Linked DNA regions of Homo sapiens. The protein of the gene in region 2 purifies or fractionates together with the protein of the main gene of each other region. This does not show direct contact. Each region holds a gene or a part of one and is shown on either strand. Other genes may lie near its edges.

Evidence for each region.
Region 1: the proteins of SERPINE2 (region 2) and AGL fractionate together in Homo sapiens (co-fractionation; one large-scale study listed by BioGRID). This does not show direct contact.

What each region holds. Positions count from the first base shown.
Region 1 is NC_000001.11:99,856,578-99,860,404, reverse strand, and holds part of AGL (glycogen debranching enzyme), read right to left. Parts: intron 1-3,827. UniProt on the Homo sapiens protein: Multifunctional enzyme acting as 1,4-alpha-D-glucan:1,4-alpha-D-glucan 4-alpha-D-glycosyltransferase and amylo-1,6-glucosidase in glycogen degradation.
Region 2 is NC_000002.12:224,004,704-224,008,530, forward strand, and holds part of SERPINE2 (glia-derived nexin isoform b precursor), read right to left. Parts: intron 1-3,827. UniProt on the Homo sapiens protein: Serine protease inhibitor with activity toward thrombin, trypsin, and urokinase. Promotes neurite extension by inhibiting thrombin. Binds heparin.

The DNA.
Region 1 (3,827 bases), on a different chromosome or scaffold from region 2:
TATAACTTTCAATTAATAATGGGCAATAATAACTGATGAGGCAGGAAAGTTTAGTTCCACTGAGTAAAATCTTTAATATCTAAGGAATTTCTTTGAGAGGAAAAAAACTAATATTTACCTATTTAATATATATTATTTATAATTTATAATCCTTGACTTATTAAACATCCAACAAAGTAATAAAAGAGGATATACTAACAGGGATATTTTCTGTGAACAAAAGATTTCAGTAAAAGACACTAAGAGAATGCTCTATAGTGAAACTAAGAATTTCTTCTCTAAGCAACTAAATGTACTTTTTCTATAATACAATTTGGCATTAATATATTAAGAATGTTTATATTTTTTGATCTAGGAATTTTATATAGATTTTTTGAGAAAAGTATCAGTGATGTAAACAGAGATTATGTATAAGGATATTTATCACAGCCTCATTTATTGAAATGAAATAAACTGACAACAACCTAAATATCTAATGATTGGCAGTGATTAAATAAATTATGGTAAATCTACAAGCTGGCATATTGTAAAGCCATTATAAATCATGTTATCAAAAGACATTTGGCCAGGCACAGTAGCTCACGCCTGTAATCTCAACACTCTGGGAGGCCGAGGCGAGAGGATCACCTGAGGTCAGAAGTTTGAGACCAGCCTGACCAACATGGTGAAACCCCATCTCTACTAAACGCAAAAATAGCTGGGTGTGGTGGTGTGCACCTGTAATCCCAACTACTCAGGAGGCTGGGGCAGAATTGCTTCAACCCAGGAGGCAGAGGTTGCAGTGAGCTAGGATCGCACCACTGCACTCCAGCATGGGTGACAGAGCAAGACTCCATTAAAAAAAAAATGTAATAACCACTTTTAATTTATTCTATTTTGTTACATTGTACACATTTATGTAGAGCTTTTAAAATATCTTCTGGAAAAAAGTATGGCTGAAACATGGCAGTAGGCAGGGAGGTAGAGTACATACACCATAATACTACTACAAACGGGAAAAAGGCAGGTTACAAAATTGTTTAGATAGTATAATCCTAATTAAAAAAAAAACACAGAAAAAATGCTTTTTATACATTTGCATAATTTTATAATTAGGGAAAACATTTTAAAATTAGAGCTACAATTATGAAGGGATAGACTAAGAAATAATTACAGAAAGAATTAAAACATGAAGTAAAATACTTAGTGACTGAGAAGCATAAACATTTACATCTCACAAGAATGACTAAATTTATCTTTAGGAGAAATAGTGTCATTTTGAACAAGTACAAACAGCAGAGATTAGCTGTCTGGGTATATGTGTACAACCTGTCCCCTGTTAAGTTTATACAAATACTGTTTTTATAATTACACAAGTATTCAGAGAACTTGCAGAGCAAAGGTTAAAACTCATCTAAAATCTCCAAAACAGTATTTGGATCAGTGCTCTACCTTCAGGAAAAAACCCCAATAATTCCCAAGCTAAGTCATTTATTTATATAATATATATGTATGATGTTCTCATAGATTATGTAAATTATAAAATATAAAAGTTAACTTAATGGGATAAGATATAAATGAAATAAATAATATTTAAATAATACATTTTATTTATTAGTGGGTAGAAAAAACCTTTTGGCTCTCACTAAAAATTAATATTGATAATATCTCTCAGTGAAAATGTAACTAAATAAATTTCATTATTTTAAAAAGTCTTGGTTTTAATATTTTGTAATAAAGTGATTCAAAGATTTCAAGTTCTACTTATTTTGGGTAAAATCATATAATGATGAAAGAAGCATTTCTAAAAATATATATTCAAAATGCTTTCACTATAGCAAGGGTTGGCAAAGTATATCCAGCCTAATCCCCATTTCTGTAAATGAAGTTTTACTGGAACACAGCCACATCCATTCATGTATGTTTGCCTATGGCTGCTTTCCTGCTACAATGGGAGTTGAGTCGCTCCAATAGGGAGTGCATTGCCTGAAAAGCTGCAAAGATTTGCGATCTGAACTTTTGCAGGAAAATATGTGCCAAACTCTGCTCCAAGCATCAATTTCCTTCAAAAAAGCACTTAACTTTCTCACTCATGTTTACATCAAAGACTTAAGTTTTTATTTTTTCTGAAAATATTTTCTAAGTATCATACTATCTAATGCTACTTGTTATTTCTGAAAAGGACGAATCTCAAACACTTTCTAACTCATCTTTTAAGTTCGATCACTCCTGTGAGGTAAAAGAACTATTCTTGGTTACTCTACCTCTCCTTACAAAGTAATATAGAGACTGTTATTTAAGATAATATAACCCGTAAAGCTACTTAACCTAGCTTAAGTAAAAGTGCAATGCATGGCAACATACTGCAAACAAATGAGGGTGTGATTGTCAACCCCTTCCAGACCTACAACCTCTACGTTTTCTTCTGAGTATGCCTTTTTTGTTTGTAACTTATCTGACATACAAACTGAGAGCATAATTCATATATTAACGTAATTCAATGTTGCTAACATATAACAGACTTAAAAAACTAAAACAGGTAGAGAGAAAAGAAAAGAGCCCTCTCCCTCTTCCCCCCTCCCCCTCCCCCTCCCCACGGTCTCCCTCTCCCCCCTCCCCCTCCCCACGGTCTCCCTCTGATGCCGAGCCAAGGCTGGACTGTACTGCCGCCATCTCGGCTCACTGCAACCTCCCTGCCTGATTCTCCTGCCTCAGCCTGCCGAGTGCCTGCGATTGCAGGCGCGCGCCGCCACGCCTGACTGGTTTTCGTATTTTTTTGGTGGAGACGGGGTTTCGCTGTGTTGGCCGGGCTGGTCTCCAGCTCCTAACCGCGAGTGATCCACCAGCCTCGGCCTCCTGAGGTGCCGGGATTGCAGACGGAGTCTCATTCACTCAGTGCTCAATGTTGCCCAGGCTGGAGTGCAGTGGCGTGATCTCGGCTCACTACAACCTCCACCTCCCAGCCGCCTGCCTTGGCCTCCCAAAGTGCCGAGACTGCAGCCTCTGCCCGGCCGCCACCCCGTCTGGGAAGTGAGAAGCGTCTCTGCCCGGCCACCCTTCGTCTGGGATGTGAGGAGCCCCTCTGCCCGGCTGCCCAGTCTGGGAAGTGAGGAGCACCTCTTCCCGGCCGCCATCCCATCTAGGAAGTGAGGAGCGTCTCTGCCCGGCCGCCCATCGTCTGAGATGTGGGGAGCGCCTTTGTCCCGCCGCCCCGTCTGGGATGTGAGGAGCGCCTCTGCCCGGCTGCGACCCCGTCCGGGAGGTGAGGGGCGCCTCTGCCCGGCCGCCCCTACTGGGAAGTGAAGAGCCCCTCTGCCCGGCCAGCCGCCCCGTCCGGGAGGGAGGTGGGGGGGTCAGCCCCCTGCCCGGCCAGCCGCCCCATCCGGGAGGTGAGGGGCGCCTCTGCCTGGCCGCCCCTACTGGGAAGTGAGGAGCCCCTCTGCCTAGCCACCACCCCGTCTGGGAGGTGTACCCAACAGCTCATTGAGAACGGGCCATGATGACGACGGCGGTTTTGTGGAATAGAAAAGGGGGAGAGGTGGGGAAAAGATAGAGAAATCAGATTGTTGCTGTGTCTGTGTAGAAAGAAGTAGACATGGGAGACTCTATTTTGTTCTGTACTAAGAAAAATTCTGCCTTGGGATGCTGTTGATCTATGACCTTACCCCCAACCCTGTGCTCTCTGAAACATGTGCTGTGTTCACTCAGGGTTAAATGGATTAAGGGTGGTGCAAGATGTGCTTTGTTAAACAGATGCTTGGAGGCAGCATGCTCCCTAAGAGTCATCACCACTCCCTAATCTCAAGTACCCAGGGACACAAACACTGTGGAAGGCCGCAGGGTCCTTT
Region 2 (3,827 bases):
AATATAGCACAAAGTCATCATAAGTATAAAACATTGTGTACAATCTTTCTTACAAATGGCCAAATGCAGTGACCAACTTCATCCATCTCAATTGTTGTCTCTTGCATTATAGTCTATTCTGGTGTCTACATTCGGCCCACTATAATCTGTACTCCTGAAGCCTCCCCAAAGAAATGCTCCTAGATTAGTGAATATTTGAATAAATATTAGAATTTGGATTCAGAAGACATGAACATTAAACTGGTTTTGCCTCTGGTAGCTTAAAGTTGATAGACTCAAATACTACATATATATTATATATATGTAGTATTATATATTATATTATATAATATATAAATATATTTTATATATTTTATATATATTATATATATATATATATATATATATATATATAAAACATTGTAAAAACAGGGTGAAAGGATCAGTGACAGTGAGAAATCTAACAGCTCCAATGTCTTAAAGTCACAAGGACAGTCTCCCAAATAAACAGCCATCTTATTTAGCAGAATTCTGCTTCATTATAAATTTTCGCTAAAAGAACAGTTTTCCTATGACACGGAAGAAAGCTGTTATGGGTGTTTTTCTGGGTTTCTTGGACTTGGGAAGTTTTTGAGAGCTGTCTATGTACAGTTTCATAAAAGTGCACTGGGACAGTGTTAGAGCTGTGCAGAACTTGGAATCAGAGCTATTTTTGATTGATGTGCTGGGCAGAACTTCTCCTTGGCCTTGGTTTCCTAGGCCAAATGCTCACTCGTCTAAACTCACCTGGCTTATATACGTGTCTAAGAATAAGCTTTCATTTTTCTCCAAAGTTCAGTAGCCAGGAGAGTGGGTGTTGATCTATAAATTACTTTAGGCCTGCATAATTCCTAACAATGAAACACACTCATGTCCAAATAGACAATCGTTTACATGAAGTAACTTGGAGTTCTCAAGCTTTGAAATGCTTGATCTCTGGAACAAGCAGATGCCATAATGGGAAGTACATAGAAACCTCCTGTTTATTTTCCTTTTTAAGAGAAATTACACTTTAAACTTTCAAATCAGAGAGAAATAAGAGTGCTGCCCAAATGTACTGCATAGCAACAAGATGGAAGATTATCATTTGCTTGAATATTGTTTCACAACAGTAAAAATAGGTCTCTAGGCCATCATTGGAGGGAAGATCATAAGCCCATCAGTAGAGCCATCGCCACAGGCATATCCTTCCAAATGCCAGGTATCTCCTTCCCTATGTTCTTCTAGTTTCTCTTACTTCAAACCTTTCTCCTTTCCAATACGGGGAATGTTTATGAAATAGCTGGGTACTGCTTTGAGTTTTAACCATGATTTAACGTAGTAAATAATGGGATGGTAGTTTTGCAAATGCCAGACTCAAAATATAACCCTAACATTTATAAATAGACTGCTTGCCAATAGCAGACATTAGAGGAACCCACTCTCTATAGACCCAATGGCGTCAACCATCTCTTCTACACAGGTGATGCTCAAATATGCAGCTCAAATCCTCAAACTCTCTGCTGAATTGCAGTGCTATACTTTCAACAGTTTGCTACCTGTTTTCACTTGATCGTTCAGAAAAATTATCCACTGGTGGGGAGGGGTACTAGTCTCCAAAAATCTACCAACTCTTCTCTTTTTCAAGAATCATAGTTTCTGTTGAAAGAGCTTGCTTACCCAAGCCCGAGCCTCTGCTTCTCTCCCTTAGCCTCCACCTAGCAACAGTGACACTTCTACCCAACTCCTTCCACGGTGTGTGTGATGTTTTTCCTGATTGTTAAAGATGAGGTTCTTTATTCTCTTCTTTGAATTCCTATAGCATTTCCTATTTGCCTGTCTCATTTTAGTTGTTTTCCAAGTATGTTTTCTTTCCTCGCAAGTAGACTGGAAGCTCACGGAAAGCAGGGACTGTAGACTCCTGGTGCCCACAGGGTCAGTTTAGGGCCTTACCATTCATTGGTAGACACAAAATCAGAGGTTGACCCGTGGGACTAATCCAGCAAGTGTTTGATGTGCAATACAGAGTATTCTAAAAATATTTTTAGCAACTAAAAGTCAAAAAATGTCACAAGTCTAGATTAGGGTTATTCTCAGGAAAAATGAAAAAGAGTGGACGTTCTAGTACTACTGGACCCTCACCCCCATGGCAAATGTTCTGCACAGACGCCACCCCTTATGGGCTGGGCACCCACTTTCCAGCGTGCCTCGCTCCCGCTGCTCCCTGCTGCCTCACACCCTGCCATGGCCGCCACTGCCATCACCTCTCCAGGCTGTGTGAGCACCTGTGACGAGACCCCTTAGCCTGGAACCAGTGCTGAACAACTGAACAGTGGCAACTAGGATAGCCAGACACAAAACATGAAGCTCATTTTCTACCTAATAAATTCTTTTTATGAAATAAAAGTTTACATATAGTGCATGAACAAATGATAAATAATATGACACTAGTCTGCTCTATGTAGCATAATAAGTAAGTTGTAGGCAGACAGCTTGGTGGGAAAAACCACTGGAAAGACTCTTCTGGGTCCATTCATAGCTGGATGGTGCACACCTATTTTGGGAGGACACAGAAGCGTCTAATGAAGGAAAAGTTCTCCATGCTCTCTCATTCTCTATAAAAGGTTTAAAGTGATCATGTTTTATAAAACATACATATATTTTTAAAAACATTATATCATGGGAAATATCAAACATATGCAAATATTTAATACTCCCCCCCATACTCAACATCCAGAAAAAACAATTATTAACTCACGGCTTGGTTTATTTCTACTCAAATCAAAGATGATTTTGGAGTTAACTGCAGACATCATATAATATCATTCAAAATAATTTCAACATATAGACTCAGCCTAAGGATTTAAAATAGATATCCATGACATCATTATCACACCGCAAAATAACTCCTTAACATGTCAAATATCTAGTCCATGTTCGCATTTTTTATAGTATATTTGAATTACGATCTAAGTAAGCTCCATACATTGCAACTGGTTACACCTCTTGCCTTTGTTTTTTTGGTTGTTTGTTTGTTTCATCTTCCACTAGTTGCTTCATTTTTAACCTTGGAATTTTTTCTGTTGAAAAAAACAGGTTATTTGCCCTGTAGAGTTTCCCCAGGGTAGATTTTGCTAACTGCATTAATGTCATGCTGTTCAACAAGTTTCTCTGTCTTCTGTCCTTCCTGTAAACTGTTAGAGCTAGAGCAGGGGTCTGCAAGCTACGGCCCATGGGCCAGATCTGGCCACGCTTTTTTCTTTGTTTATGGCTGCATCTGTGCTATGATAGGGAGCTGAGCAGAGGTGCCCGGCTGCAAGAGAGACGGTATAGCCTGCAAAGCCAAAAACAGTTATTATGTGGCCCTCTACGTGAAAAGCCTGCTGACCCCAGCTGTAGGGACTGATCAGATTCAAGTCAATTTTCTCTTTTTGTAAGAATATTTTGTAGAGGTGCCGTAGAGGGTGGTGAAATCAGTAGACGGTAGCTGACTGTCTCTTTTTGTGGTGTTAGCAAGCTACTTATGATGACCGCCTAAGTGCACTGTTTTATTAAGAGTTACCAAATGTGGGTGCTGTTATAATTCTAACTTTCCTCCCTCACTTATTAATTAGAATATTTATATAAAAAGAAGTTTTCCATAATCAACTACTTGGTTGCCCTGAGGTTTATTTTGTGTTACAAGGGCAGGACAAATTCTTCATTCATTTCCCATATCCAACAGTTTTCAAAATAATTCAAAATAGGTTGATTGACCAGAGGGTTCTATTTTCTGTATCACTATAAACTCGTGTTTTTCAACATACTTTAAGGGTCTCGATCCACTGCAA